4 linked regions of the Homo sapiens genome follow. The protein of the gene in region 2 purifies or fractionates together with the protein of the main gene of each other region. This does not show direct contact. Each region holds a gene or a part of one and is shown on either strand. Other genes may lie near its edges.

What was found.
Region 1: the proteins of GOLGA3 (region 2) and GOLGA4 fractionate together in Homo sapiens (co-fractionation; one large-scale study listed by BioGRID). This does not show direct contact.
Region 3: the proteins of GOLGA3 (region 2) and SMC4 fractionate together in Homo sapiens (co-fractionation; one large-scale study listed by BioGRID). This does not show direct contact.
Region 4: the proteins of GOLGA3 (region 2) and PPP6R3 fractionate together in Homo sapiens (co-fractionation; one large-scale study listed by BioGRID). This does not show direct contact.

What each region holds. Positions count from the first base shown.
Region 1 is NC_000003.12:37,295,271-37,298,770, reverse strand, and holds part of GOLGA4 (golgin subfamily A member 4), read right to left. Parts: intron 2,685-3,500; coding exon 2,552-2,684; intron 1-2,551. UniProt on the Homo sapiens protein: Involved in vesicular trafficking at the Golgi apparatus level. May play a role in delivery of transport vesicles containing GPI-linked proteins from the trans-Golgi network through its interaction with MACF1. Involved in endosome-to-Golgi trafficking.
Region 2 is NC_000012.12:132,821,144-132,826,906, reverse strand, and holds part of GOLGA3 (golgin subfamily A member 3), read left to right. Parts: intron 1-669; exon of another isoform or gene 670-1,226; intron 1,227-1,800; exon of another isoform or gene 1,801-1,988; intron 1,989-4,595; 5' UTR 4,596-4,778; coding exon 4,779-4,911; intron 4,912-5,763. UniProt on the Homo sapiens protein: Golgi auto-antigen; probably involved in maintaining Golgi structure.
Region 3 is NC_000003.12:160,433,052-160,435,453, reverse strand, and holds the end of SMC4 (structural maintenance of chromosomes protein 4), read right to left. Parts: coding exon 2,245-2,402; intron 1,798-2,244; coding exon 1,645-1,797; 3' UTR 501-1,644; downstream 1-500. UniProt on the Homo sapiens protein: Central component of the condensin complex, a complex required for conversion of interphase chromatin into mitotic-like condense chromosomes.
Region 4 is NC_000011.10:68,572,252-68,575,751, reverse strand, and holds part of PPP6R3 (serine/threonine-protein phosphatase 6 regulatory subunit 3), read right to left. Parts: intron 1,644-3,500; coding exon 1,528-1,643; intron 1-1,527.

The DNA.
Region 1 (3,500 bases), on a different chromosome or scaffold from region 2:
TTATGACTGAGACAGTCAAAGAGATCTAATCTAACCGACTCCATCTTGGTTCTAACCTTTAAGCTGTCATTGTTCGTTCCTGGGTGTAGGCTGAACTAACTTTGGGAGAACTTAGTTTATAGTTTATAGTCTAAAACAAAGACAATAAAAGCCATTTCCCAAACAAACCCCCTTCTTGCCTGGAGACTAGATTGCCTTTGTAGGACTAACAAATTAGCCAAAAGATTAGAAATTATCATTTAGGAGTCATGCAGCTGAAGGCTACAAGATTCTGACCACCACTAAACTGCTCCTAATATCACTGCTTGAGATATTTTGCAGACCCTGCACTTGATGGATCAGCTGGCAACACCCAGATCGATAAATTGGCTCATCTGATCTTGTGGCTCCCACCCAGGAAGTGACTCAGCACAAGAAGACAGCTTTGATTCCCTATGATATCATCTCTGACCTGACCAATCAGCACTCCTGGCTCACTGGCTTCCTCCCACCCACTAAATTGTTCTTAAAAACTCGGATCCGTGAATGCTTGGCGAGACTGATTTGAGTAAAATAAAACTCTGGTCACGTGCACACTCGGCTCTGCGTGAATTACTCTTTCTCTACTGCAATTCCCCTATCTTGATAAATCAGCTCTGTCTAGGCAGTGGGCAAGGTGAACCCTTTGGGCGGTTACAAATATAAGGACACTTCCAGGAACAGTCTGTTACTACACAGGTGTGTATTCCCTCTTTTTTTTTTTGAGACGGAGCCTCGCTTTGCCGCCCAGACTGGAGTGCAGTGGCATGATCTCGGCTCACTGCAACCTCCACCTCCCTGGTTCAAGCAATTCCCCTGCCTCAACCTCCCAAGTAGCTGGGATTACAGGCGCACACCACCACGTCTCGCTAACTTGTTTGTATTTTTAGTAGAGGTGGGGTTTCACCATGTTGGCCAGACTAGTCTCGAACTCCTGACCTCAGGCAATCCGCCTGCTTCAGCCTCCCAAAGTGTTGGGATTACAGGTGAGAGCCACCACGCCCCACCAGGAGTGTATTCTTACACCAATATTCTGCTATACTCTTAGATGAAGAAGGGACAACCCTAGTCAGCTAATAAACTGGCACCCTTCCAAACCTCTACTTAGTATTAGTTGTTTAATCTTTATCTGAAGAAGCTTAGTAGTAATTCACCTCTTTGAGGTTCAACCCCATTCAGAATGGCACAGTAGTTAACTAACATTAACTGAATCCACCCTCCTTAAAATGACAGTTTGATAATCATCTTTTGTTATTCAAAATTATGTGTCTTAGCTCACCTCCCAAAAGGATTAATAAAGTACGGTATTCTTTCCAACCACATTCTAATCTCTTTCTGAGAGGAGTTCTGGTAAGTGCAACTTTCTCCATCTCTTTACATTTATGAGTCTGAAGTTTCCACATGTCTGGGAATTTCGGGACTGGCCCCGCCGCCCCACCACCCCACCATAGTCTGGTTGCTCAGATAGTTAACTGCTCAACTACTTACTCCAAGTTTATCATAAGTCCCTTTGAAAGAAAAAGCTAGGAAATAAAAGACGGGAATTTTATTGCGTATATACCTCAAGCCTCAAAGCAAAGAAGGCTGTAACTGAATTTTAAGACAAAATATAGCTATTTCTTCTTTTTCCAGTTAAAAAGCAATTAATAGGACAAATACAAATATCTATGAATATAGAACTATTTAAGCAATATTTAAAAACTAAAATATCCAAACAATTACAAATAGCCCACTTATTAGCATGTAAGCAGAACTGACCTGTTCATATGAAATCTAGCTACTGCTATTAATAAAACAGTGTAGCATAATAAATGAATTTCAATTACAATGAAAATGTGGTGTTACAGACTATGAAATTTTTGCATATTAAAACAACTTTTTTGGTTGGGCACAGTGACTCACACCTGTAATCCCAATACTTTGGGAGGCTGAGGCAGGTAGATTACTTGAGATTAGGAGTTCGAGACCAGCCTGGCCAACATAGTGAAAGCCCGTCTCTACTGAAAATACAAAAATTAGCCGGGCATGGTGGTGTGTGCCTGTAATCCCAGCTACTCGGGAGGCTGAGGCAGGAGAATCGCTTGAACCCAGGAGATGGAGGTTGCAGTGAGCCGAGATCATGCTACTGCACTCCAGCCTAGGCAATAGAGTGAGACACCATCTCAAACTAACAAGCAAACAAAAAACACTTATTTTCTCCTAAATAACAACAAAGAACCAAAAAAACAAAACAAACCCTTGCATCTTTCTGAAACTATTAGGACCACGGACACTTCTACCTCAGCCCATATCTATCAGCTCACATCCTGGAATCTCTCAAAATCCTCCTCTAGGTTTTCTTGGGGTTTCATTTTTGTTTTTGTTTTTCTTGTGGAGAAGGGTTTTCTCTATGTTGCCCAGGCTGGTCTCAAACTCCTGAACTCAAGCGATCCTCCCACACTGGCCTCCCAAAGTGTTGGGATTAAAGGTGTAAGCCAAGGAGCCTGGCTCTCCTCTAGTTTTTAAATTAACCTTTTGACAAAATGAAGCTTACCTACTGGCTCTCCATCACTTTCTGGATTCTCTTCTTTAGTGAAGACTTCAGCCTGTGGTTCCAGCTGAGGAAGTGGTTTCAGTACATCAACATTCATCGGGCCATTTCGTAATCGTTGTTTCAGTAGAGAAACCTAATATAAATGTGCTTCATTAGAAAAAAGTCAAAAAAAACTATGGGAGTAGTACAATTGTCCCTTGGTATCTGTGGGGGATTGGTTCCAGGATTCCCTGTTAATACCAAAATCCGCAGGAGCTCAAGTCCATTATATAAAATGGTGTAGTATTTGCATATAGCCTACACACATCCTCCAGTATAATTTAAATCATCCCTAGATTACATAAACTACCTAAATAATGAAAATGCTATGCAAGTAGTTGTTGTACTACATATATTTTAGAAAATAATGAGAAGAAAAAAAGTCTACATGTTCACTACACATGGTTTTCACCCCCTAAATATTTCTGATCCAGTTGGTTGAATCCACACATACAAAAACACATCAATGTGGATGGCTTATTGTACTTTATTTAAAACAGAGAGAGGACGGATTAAATGATATTCTTCTTACTAAAGTGGGGGAAAATAATCAAAATAAAAAGTTTACTCCCAATACAGCTGGTTTTTATATTTGCTATTATTATTATGCAGTTAGTCAAAAGATACAATAAATAAAAAAGTATCCTTAACATTAACTGAAGAGCTAGGAGTGGTGGCTCATGCCTATAATCCCAACACTTTGGGAGGCCAAGGCGGAAGGATCGCTTGAGCCCAGGGGTTTGAGACCAGCCTGGGCGACATAGTGAGACCCCATCTCTACAAAAAATTTAAAAATTAGCTGGGCGTGGTGGCATATGCCTGTATTCCCAGCCACTCTGGAGGCAGAGGCTGGAGGATTGCTAGAGCCCAGGAATTTGAGATTGCAGTTAAGCTATGATCACGCCACTGC
Region 2 (5,763 bases):
AGAGCCATGTTTGTAGTACCAGCTTTCTGTGATGCACTGGCAGTTGCTCCTCCTCCTCGCTGCCCGGAGATCGCTTTTTGTCAGTAGTCTGAGGTAATGAGGCCCTGACGACTGAGTCATTCCAAATTTTAACTAAAAATCAAGCAAGACTGGGAATCGACCGAGACTGCCAGCTTATTGCCCTACAGGGAGAAGTATCACTGTCACCAAACTCCAGGCAGTTAGTGAATTCTCTCTCTGGTCCGGCTTCAGGAGGAGCTGCCTGTAAAGAGGGGCCGTCTTTGTGACTTACAGTCACCGTCATGGGGTCTCTGTTCTGGAGAGGTGGGCTGCTTGGACACCAGCAGGGGAATTAAGTGAGCAGAATCTGTGATTGCACTGGACTCAGCTCGGTGCGGTTGGCTGTCACCATGTTGGCGTGCCCTCTCGGTGGAACCTGAGCGTCTTTGGCTGTGTTCCTTCTTGGTCAGTGTAAGGCCCAGGCGTCGTCACTGTGGGCCTCTGCAGCAGTTCTCCTCTGCAGCAGTTCTCCTCTGCATGTTCCACCTGTAATGGCTGAGTCCAGTCCTGCTGGTCATCCCATCCTTCCTTCTGTTCAGGTGGTGGTGCCTGTCTGGGCCGTGGCCGTGATGCTGCTCTTCCAGTTTCTTTTTTTTTTTTTTTTTTGGAGAATGAGAAAATAACTTTATTTCATTGTGGGGAGCGGGCTGATGTCCAGCCTCAGAACTTCTGGAACTGCTTCTTGGTGCTGGCAGCCTTGGTGACCTGGAGCACGTTGAGGTGCACTGTCTTGCTCAGAGGCCGGCAAGGCCGGCACTCGCCCACTGTGACGATGTCACCGATCTGGACGTCCCTGAAGCAGGGGAACAGGTGTACAGACATGTTCTTGTGGTGCTTCTCGAAGTGGTTGTACTTGCGGATGTAGTGCAGGTAGTCTCGGCGGATGACAGTGGTCCTCTGCGTCTTCATCTTGGTCACCACGCCAGAGAGGATCCGCCCTCGAATGGAGACATCACCAGTGAAGGGGCATTTCTTGTCAATGTAGGTGCCCTCAGTAGCCTCTTTGGGTGTCTTGAAGCCCAGACCAATGTTCTTGTAGTACCGCAGGAGCTTCTCCTTGCCAGTTTCTCCCAGCAGGACCCTCTTCTTGTTTTGAAAGATGGTCGGCTGCTTTTGGTAGGCACGCTCAGTCTGAATGTCCGCCATCTTCCCGGCCACTGAAAAAAGGTGCTCTTCCAGTTTCTAACTCCCTGGACTCCCTCATTGGAACTGAAGCTCACAGATGTTTCAGCTGGACTAGTTTAGACTTTGCTGTATTTTAAAAGGCAGTGTTGATGCTCCAGGATTCAAATACTTAATCATTTTGTTTTGGAACCATTAGCTTTGTAGCAGAGGAATGTACTCAGCAGAATCAGCAGAACTGAAGATTTAATTCGGCAAATTAAACCTGTGTTGGCACTTTAGGAGTTGGGAGTGTTCAAGGTGGTGGGAGGCAGACGGGGAATGAGTCTCTGTCTTCAAGGATCTCGCCATGTAATGGGCACACACGCAATGGCAGACATGACGTGCTGTGGTGGAGGCCACGTGAGGTACAGTGATGGCAGAGGGGGTAGACGAGACACTTTACCTGCGGGGCCAGGAGGGTCTGCACGCGCAGGCACACACCGTCGGTTCCTTTACCTGAGGGGCCAGGAGGGTCTGCACGCGTAGGCACACACGGTCGGTTCCATATAATCACCCCACCCCCGCAAGGCAGAAGCAAAGACATCACAAAGCAAAACGCAAGTTTTCTTTTGCTAGGAAATTTTCAAGAGGACCAGATGTACAGGGTACCAGTATTCAGTGGCGCAGTCGAGTCCACATTCCACCGCGTGTAGTCCTCCGTGCCAGTTTGTAATTCATCTGTCAAAGGGGCAAGCCTGTGATAAGCAGCCATCATTTTGCTGATGCTCCTCCCCTTGTTTTGTGGGTGTCTTCTCCATTCCCAGGTGGGCGTGGCCGGCTGACCCCCAGTTCTCTTGGAGTGTGTCTGGGATTGTAGCTGAGGGGCAGGCTTGGTGGAGATCGCAGTGTTTTTCCTGGAAAGTGATTTTCAGAGGGTTCTGTGCTGTGTGTAAGGACAGGTGTGTAGTTCAGATCCCTGCCTAGGCTCTAAGGCCCATTTATCACCCACCCACCCGGAAAATCCAGGGATGAGAGATGTTACTAGATGATCATAGACGCAAACATGAGATTGAGAATTCGTTGCACACAGGATTAGCTTTTGACCAGCCTTGGTAACTTCCTTCACTTCTGTGCTTCAGACATTGCTTTAATCTTTAAATATTTTTATGTGCCAGGCACCCTGAGTCAAGACATCTAGGATCCTTTGTTTACAGTAGTTTCTTGATTAGCTATGCGAGATTTATAGTTACTAATGTTAGGACACATTTCTATTCACAGTGCTTTCTGGTTACAAACCCTTAATGCTAGTTTTACACTAATAGCATACGTAACCTTTTAATATTCTGAACAACACTGTTATGAACTCATAACTGTCTCTGGCCTGTAGGATGCAAGGTGGCAGAGAGGAATGGTGGATTATTATAGTTATGAGCAGATACTCACAGGTCTGCACGCCCTTCAGTGAGTCATTGACTGTGTCAGTGGACTGGGTTACACCCACCACCCATAGGTTTCCTCTTTTACGGGTGACCAGTCTAGATGGCAGGTAGAGTAAAAACCCCTAGAAAGACAGGCACGTCCTGCTGCGGGGTCAGTGACACACATGCTCTCGAGGACCAGCCACGTGGGCTTCTCTTTTTTTTGTTGTTTTTTGTTTTTTGAGATGGAGTTTTGTGCTTGTCTCCCAGGCTGGAGTGCAGTGGCACAATTTTGGCTCACGCAACCTCTGTCTCCCAGGTTCAAGCGATGTTCCTGCCTTAGCCTCCTGAGTAGCTGGGATTACAGGCACGCGCTGCCATGCCTGGCTAATTTTTGTATTTTTAGTAGAGACGAGGTTTCACCTTGTTGGCCAGGCTGGTCTTGAAATTCTGACCTCAAGTGATCCACCCACCTTGACCCCCCAAAGTTATGGGATTACAGGCATGAGCCATCACACGCAGCCCTTTTTTTTTTTTAGACGGAGTTTCCACTCTTGTTGCCCAGGCTGGAGTGCAATGGCGTGGTCTTGGTTCAGTGCAACCTCCGCCTCCCAGGTTCAAGTGATTCTCCTGCCTCAGGCTCCCAAGTAGCTGGGATTACAGGCGCCTGCCACCACGCCTGGCTAGTTTTTTGTATTTTTAGTAGAGATGGGGTTTCACCATGTTGGCCAGGCTGGTCTCAAACTCCTGACCGCAGGTGATCCGCCCGCCTTGGCCTCCCAAAGTGCTGGGATTACAAGCATGAGCCACCGCACCCGGCCCCATGTGGGCTTCTTGTCTATACCTTCTGTGTGGGATTTGTAAGCTAGAGGCGAAGGTTGTGTAATGTTTCTCATGAAAAATGTTAAACACAGAACATAATGTAGGTTAATATGAAACTGATTTTAAAGGAATAAATGCCAACATTTCTGCAGAATGAATGGAAGCTCATGCTAGTGTCTTACCTGTTGATAAGGAAATGAGTTAATAATATCACCAGCACATTTCAGGGTGGATAATCACTTGCCAAATGTTGGGCAAAGTTTTGCTCCCCTGAATGTAGCCCGGCAGGGCAGGCTGAGAGAGCTAACCCAGCTAGAGGTAAAGACGGGAACGGGCCCTGCCGTGAGATGCCCTTTCTGTGCCCCCACTCCAAGGCAGCTGCCTTTCTGGTGTCCTTGTACACCCTGTATAGAGTTACCACATCCCATGGCACCTGCTTTTTAAAGTTTTGTTTCTCTGGATCTGAGTTGTCCAACCTGAAGGGGTGGGGCTGCCGGCAGGAGCCGTGGCCTTGGGCAGAGTCACTCACTAGCTGAGAGGGGGGCCTGTGAGTCTGGTATTGTAATTTTTAAATTGTTTTTGAGATGGGGTCTCCCTCTGTCACCCAGGCTGCAGTGCAGTGGTGCGATCTCAGCTCACTGCAACCTCCGCCTCCCGGTTTCAAGTGACTCTCCTGCCTCAGCCTCCCGAGTAGCTGGGATTACAGGTGTTCACCACCACACCCGGCTATTTTTTGTATTTTTAGTAGAGGTGGGGGTTTCACCATGTTGGCCAGGCTGGTCTTGAACTCCTGACCTCAGGTGATCTGCCTGCCTCGGCCTCCCAAAGTGCTGGGATTACAGGGGTGAGCCACCGCGCCTGGCCCAAATTAATTTTAAATAAAATTTAAAGCTCAGTTGCCCTGTGTGACACCTACTCCACAGATTCAGAGCTGCGCTGTCCCAGCAGAATGTTCTTTAGTTGGCACCGATACAGACATTAAGCTCCTTCAGGAAAGGGCCCAGTGTGGCTGGGTCAGCATCTTAGCCTCAAAACCTAGGATGTTGTGGGTGCTCCAGGATTATTTGCTGAATGAAAAAGTTTGTATTTGTTTCTTGTACGTATGCAAATTGGGAACCAAATGCTAATTTTGTAATTGATACTTGAAATCTGACAAGTTTCATAATACATTTTGTCTCTCTCTCCTGTCAGGTATCATGATATTAGCTGGTTTGACATCAAGTCATTTGTGAGTCATCAGATCTTCTCCTGAAAATGGGAGACACAGTAGGGCCCCTCCCAGGAGCTCTTGGCTGTTGCTGATGGCAGAAGCCAAGCTTGTCCAAGGTTCACTTGTAGCCCCTCAGCGTCAGCTCAGCTGGTGTCGTCCTGACCATGGACGGCGCGTCGGCCGAGCAAGATGGCCTCCAGGAGGACAGATCCCACAGTGGCCCCTCGTCTCTCCCCGAGGCCCCACTGAAGCCCCCGGGCCCACTGGTGCCACCTGACCAGCAGGACAAAGTCCAGTGTAAGTCGTGAGGTTCCTCTGTGTGCTGGTCACAGGAGGACCTGGTGTTGAGGGAGGACGTGGTGTTGAGGGAGGATGTGGCGTTGAGACCACTGTGAGCTTTTCACTTAATTCAAAGTTGTTTTTTTTTTTTTTTTTTTTTGAGACGGAGTCTCGCTCTTTCGCCCAGGCTGGACTGCAGTGGCGTGATCTCGGCTCGCTGCAAGCTCCGCCTCCCGGGTTCATGCCATTCTCTTGCCCCAGCCTCCTGAGTAGCTGGGATTACAGGCGCCCGCCACCGCGCCCGGCTAATTTTTTGTATTTTTAGTAGAGACGGGGTTTCACCGTGTTAGCCAAGATGGTCTCGATCTCCTGACTTCGTGATCCGCCCGCCTCAGCCTCAGCCTCAAAGTGCTGGGATTACAGGTGTGAGCCACTGTGCCCGGCCCAAAGTATGTTTTAGTAACTGAATGATGCCACCTTTAGATCAGGCACATTCCTGCTAAACAGAACTCCATTAAACGTGTGGGGCAGCAGCAGTGTTTCCCTGAAGGGATCTATGGGTCTTTATCATGTTCCCTGCCTAAAATTCTACCTTTTTTTTTTTTCGACGTGGAGTTTTGCTCTGGGTGCCCGGGCTGGAGTGCAATGGCGAGATCTCGTTTCACTGCAACCTCCACTTCCCGGGTTCAAGCAATTCTTCTGCCTCAGCCTCCCGAGTAGCTGGGATTACAGGCATGCGCTACCACGCCCAGCTATTTTTTGTATTTTTAGTAGAGATGAGGTTTCTCCATGTTGGTCAGGCTGGCCACGAACTCCCAACCTCAGGTGATCCGCCCACCTTGGCATCCCAAAGTGCTGAGATTACAGGCG
Region 3 (2,402 bases), on a different chromosome or scaffold from region 2:
ATTTTCACATGGGTTCTGGGTACTTCTAATTCTTTGAAACTTAGTACTGCAGGCTGGGTGCAGTGGCTCATGCCTATAGTCCAGCACTTTGGGAGGCTGAGGCAGGCAGATCACTTGAGGCCAGGAGTTTGAGACCAGCTTGGCCAACATGGCAAAACCCTGTCTACCAAAAACACAAAAATTAGCTGGGCACTGTGGTGTGCACCTGTAGTCCCAGCTACTCATGTGGCTGAGGCACTTGAATCGCTTGAACCCGTGAGGCAGGGTTGCAGTGAGCCAAGATCTTGCCACAGCACTCCACCCTGGGTGATGCAGTGAGACTTTCAAAAAAAAAAAAAAAATCTGAGCTCTACTGCATTGGTTATTAAAATATAATAAAAGTATTAAATTCTATTTTCGCACCAAATGAAAACACTTGATTATCATTATAGCACTTTAAACTTACTTTTCCCTTATATATTCTTGATTTAGAACAAATTACCGTACTTGAATTTCCGATCTTGCTTTCTTTAAATCTTTATTTAAAAGTCCATGCTAATAATGTGTTTACATTTTTACAGTTACATTATGATAGAAACTGTTGGATTTTTTAAATATCTAAAACAATGGCCCACTGAAGAAAGGAACAATTAACTCTTTAATTAATTCCTTAGGATAAATACCCAGAAATTTAACAGCTAGGGCAGACTTCTAATACAATACCGAAAGTCCTTCCAAAAACCAAGTGGTTGCCAACTTATGTCCCTTAGCATTATAACATTCTTGAGCCAATAGTGTAAAAATACGCTGACAATTTTATAGGCAAACATTACTCAAGGTATCTTACTTTCCACTTATTACTAAAGTAATTAACCCCTAAATAGATGCTCCTCAACAGTGGGACTACATCCTGGTAAACCTATCATAAGTTGAAACTATCAAGTTGAAATGCATTTAGTACCCGGATAAACCTATCATAAAGTTGAAAATTTGTAAATTGAACCAGTGTAAATCAGAGGCCATCTTACTTCATACTCATGAAGCAACTATAGTGGGATATTTTTCAACTTACGAGATAGCCTAGGCTTGTTGAAACACTGTCCTAATTTACTGGCTCTCTGGTAATTAAGTCATAAATGGTCAAACATCAAATTCTAGAAAAGCATATATTTAAATTCTCATCACTATAATTCAGAATGACTGGTTTACAAAAATATGTTCATAGTATTTGGGTAATAACTGTGGTGATTGTCTCAACTGGCAAGCTAAGTGGAATGCCTTAAAGAATCTATCCAAGATTAGTTGGCAGGCATTTCCAGTGTTGGTAAATCAAAGGCCCACGAAGGTATGCTGAGCCTTGATAGCACAACCTTGCTTAGGACTTTGCCTCAACTAACATACTTTTTAGTTTGGCAAGTTACCTGACCCTCCAGGTAACTCATTTTTCTCCATAGTCTGCTACTTACAAGATTGTCATATTTTTGTAATCTAGAAGCAATTATAGAGAATATTTTATTAGACTTTACAAATGACAACTGCATAAAACAGAAACCAGTTTCATGATCTAGTTTAGGGAGTATGTATTTTATACAACTCATAATCCTTTACAAATAGAAAAAAATCAGTAATACACTGAATCAACTTGAAGAATCTTCAGCATAAAGTTCAACAAAGTCCCTTAGATGCAATTTCTTTTGGATTTACAGCAACACTTTTTGTTATGTTGTATGTCTTGTAAATTCCAATAAGTCTATCCGAAATCTCAAACATATTATTTCGAAGAGAAATTATTATGAACTGTGCATTTTTTGTTTGTTCCTAAAGAGAAACAAAGAAAAGTCAAACATTAAGTAATAACAGGTAAATCACACAAACATGTAACCTCAAATATTTTTTGGACAATAAACATTACATTGATAACATGTAAAGGAATGATGGCAGGAATAATTCATAAAACAGTATTTGAGTGTGAAAGGAATTTGGTTATTTTGACTTCTAGTGGAAAAGATCTAGGAAGATGACCTAGGATTCTAGCTGTGATTCTGCTACTAATTTGCATTTTTAATTTATATTTTACTCCTCCAAAATGGAAATATTTGGTTCAAATAAAAAATAATTTGGTCTCCACTGATACCAGAGGAGATGGAGATGGAGTTATTAGACAATAAAGAAAAAGCTCAATTGTAAGAAATAAAGAATTCCATGTGTAATGTTTAGGATACCCCTAAAAGTTTCTGGAATGAAAATCCCAAAATGATTACTTACATATATATAAAATGCAACAATGGACACATTTTTAAAATCAAGGGCTGCATCAATCTCATCCATGAAGTAAAGGGGAGTGGGCTTGTAGTGGTGAAGAGCAAATACTAAAGCCAATGAACTAAGTGTTTTCTCTCCTCCCGAAAGGTTGAAGATCTTTT
Region 4 (3,500 bases), on a different chromosome or scaffold from region 2:
GACTTTCAGGAACCAGAATCCCCCTACCCAATGGTATAGGCTTGATGAGGCCAAGAGCCCTAAGGTAGCTTGTGAACTTAACAAGTTTCTGAAAATGCTCTGGTAGAAGCTTAACCTGGAAAGTGTGTTTCCAACAAGCTTTTCTGAGAAAGGTGGTAGGTGTTTAACGTGTCGGGGGTAGGGGGATCTTTTTCCATGGTCAAGTTAAGTCTAGAAAATGCTGCAAATGACAGCTCCTGCACACTTTCTTGAAATGCTCTCATTGGCAGCTGGCCAATGAATGTTCCACAGAACCTAGTATGGCTTTTCAAATTGCTCTAAGATCATGTTTCCTAAATATTTGTGTCATGGGCCAACGTGGATACACAGGTAATAGTGAAATTCTACCTTCTAGAGAAATGTTAAAGAAAAGGATAAACAACTGCTTTTCTGAGAAAATCAAACCATGACGTAATTTTAGAGGCCTAACTAGTCATCTGATAATTCTGGTTTAAAACAGCCATGCATGTGTGCACACTCACAGAAGTGTACACATGTACCACCTGGCAAGCAGCTTCCATAAAGGAAAGTCTGATCTAAAAACTCAGTCATATCACATGGCCATTTCTTCTTAGTTAGGACATAAAGATAAACTGTGTGGTGAAATGGCCCAAGGAAGAGGCTTATACCTCTTATGCCTCTCTCAAGAAGCAAAATTAGAAGTGGGCACACACCACTTTTTCCATCCCTGGTGACAACTGTGGTTTTAGTGCACATTCAACAGGGAATAGCCTCTTGAACAAACAAACATTCTTAAGAAAAAATGGAAGACCCACTGGGAAATGATTTTAACTGAACAAATTCTGTACCATGGATGTTAAAGACTGTTCACATTCAGAATAGGTCTCAGGATTGGTAATCCTGTTGGTACAAAAACCCAGAGTACACAGTTCTCTCATTTTAGAAGAAGGCTCATGGCTTGGGGCCAGTGTAAAAAAGCATCCATATAGTTTCTTCCAAATAAGCTTGGGCTGATTAAACTGAAATGCTATACAGAAAGAGTCCTTTAGAAGCCAATACCCCTCATTTTAGTGACAGCGACATCAAAGAAATGCTGATAAATGCCCTAATATTCCAGTTAAAGAAACTTAATTCAGAGGCTATATAGAGGCCTTCAGAAAATAAAAGGCAAAATTATAGCTGAAGTGGCTCAACTGCTAGCATATGAGTACTTCACACTCACAATACTCAAAAGCATGATTCACCAAGCAATGCTCTTTAAGAATGACAATAGGTGACTCTTATATGCTGAATCCAGCCAAGCCTGCCAATGCTTATGGAATGGTCTGTAACTACATGAACATAAATACAACCAAAAAACAACACTGTTCAAACACATTCTCAAGAACCTCATTCAAATACATAATTTGCCAAATATAAAGAAGTCCCACAAATCACTATTAAAAATGCTACATGCATTTCTACTTGACCCTTAAATCCTTCCTGCAACCCAACAAAAATGTAATTCAAATTTCACAAATAACTTACCTTTGATAAGCTGCTGCACTAATGCACTGTTGGGGCCCTTGTCAGTGCTGTGCACGATACAGTTAGCTATCCTCGTTAGGTGTCCCATGTAACCATGCCGTCTTCCTCCCTCAGCCCTGACAAGAGGTAAAGGACAAATACTCAGATTCCTGATAGGATGAAGTGATGAAACACTCGGTAAATACTGCGGACTTTTAAACAATCATTTTAAACCCTGAAGGCACTGAAGAAAATGACGATGGACAGAAAAGAAAAGAAAAACAAAGGAATGGAAGGTGCCAGAATATGACCATGCAGCATGGTCAGGGAGGGGTGTGAAATTGTAAAAGATTATATGGCAGCCTCAGTCAACAGGCCACAGTTTATTCGAATCTCAAAAATCATCACTCACTGTCAATAACACATTATTTTTTAAAAGATCAAATAAACCTTCTCTGATGCCTAATGTTATTGTGATTTTATTTTACATCTTTTTAATGAAACTTTTTCAAACCTTAATCAGATTATAAGGAACTGAGGTAAGAATTCTGCTGGTTCATTTTCTTAAAAGATAGCAAATTTTTATTATATCAATGAATAGAAATAATTATCTACCAATGACATGTCTCAAGTTAAGATATTAGCTGATGTGAGACTTGGCCAAGATAGGAGACAGTCAACTAGTACTTGACCATACACCATTCTGAACACATGCAAACAAACAGTCTTTGTCCTTTTCCCATTTAAGGTCTCATCTTCCCAACCATGATCAATCTTTACACTTAATTCGTATCAGGCCAGGCACAGTGGCTCACGCCTGTAATCCCAACACTTTGGGAGGCCAACACAGGTGGATCACTTGAGGTCAGGAGTTTGAGACCATCCTGGGCAACATGGCAAAACCCCATCTCTACTAAAAATACAAAAATTAGCCAGGCGTGGTGGTGCACACTTGAAATCCTAGCTACTCAGGAGGCTGAGGCAGGAAAATTTCTTGAACCCGGTAGGCAGAGACTGCAGTGAGCCAGGATTGTGCTACTGCACTCCAACCTGGGTGACAAAATAAGACTCCGTCTCAAAAAAAAAAAAATTATATATATATATATATATATATATATATATATATATATAAAATAAGTAAACTCATATTAATCTGATTTCTCTACCTATTTACAAAGTGCCAAGATTTTAAGCTCTATCAAACGAAAGATTTTTGACTGCAGATAGCAGGGAACAAACACTGCAGAGATTTTTGCTTAGAGAGAGAAAAGCCTTTCAGGAGCAATAAGAAAAAAAAAACATCCTATGCTTGAAGGCTTGCTTGGAAAATAAAGTATCTGCTAGAGAATCTTAGAGGGCTTGGGGGTGCCTAAGGGTAAGAAGTACAGGGTTGATTATTTAGGTAGAGACAAGGTCTTGCTTGTCATCCAGGCTGGAGTGCAGTGGTGCAATCACAGCTCATTGCAGCTTCAAACTCCTGGGCTCAGGCAATTCTCTCACTTCGGCCTCTTGAGTAGCTGGGACTATAGGCAAGTACCACCACATCCGGCTAATTTTTTGTAGAGCCAGGATCTCCCTATGTTGTCCAGACTGGTCTCGAACCCCTGGCCTCAACCAATCCTCCCATCTCAGCCTCCCAAAGCAGTGGGATTACAGGCATCTCCCACCGTGCCTGGCCAGAGTCAATCTTCACTGAGTTGCTCAGAGTCTCTTTTAGTTCTTCAGTAAGATCCAGAGAGCCAGGTGTTACCTACAGGCAACTGAGTCACTCTTCTGCACACCCTCAAGTACACAAGTGAAAGAAAACAAAGGCCCATCTCTAAGGTGACCCACAGCTTCAAACTGCTTCAGGCTGTTGTGCAAGGAAACAAGGAAAGTTCTTTCGGGATCCCCCTAGACAGAGGGAATGGTATTCACCAGGCCTCCAGAAAACGGGACTCACCAGGAGAGCAGGGCACAAAGGATATCTGAGCCCTGGCCAGATGAGGAGGCAG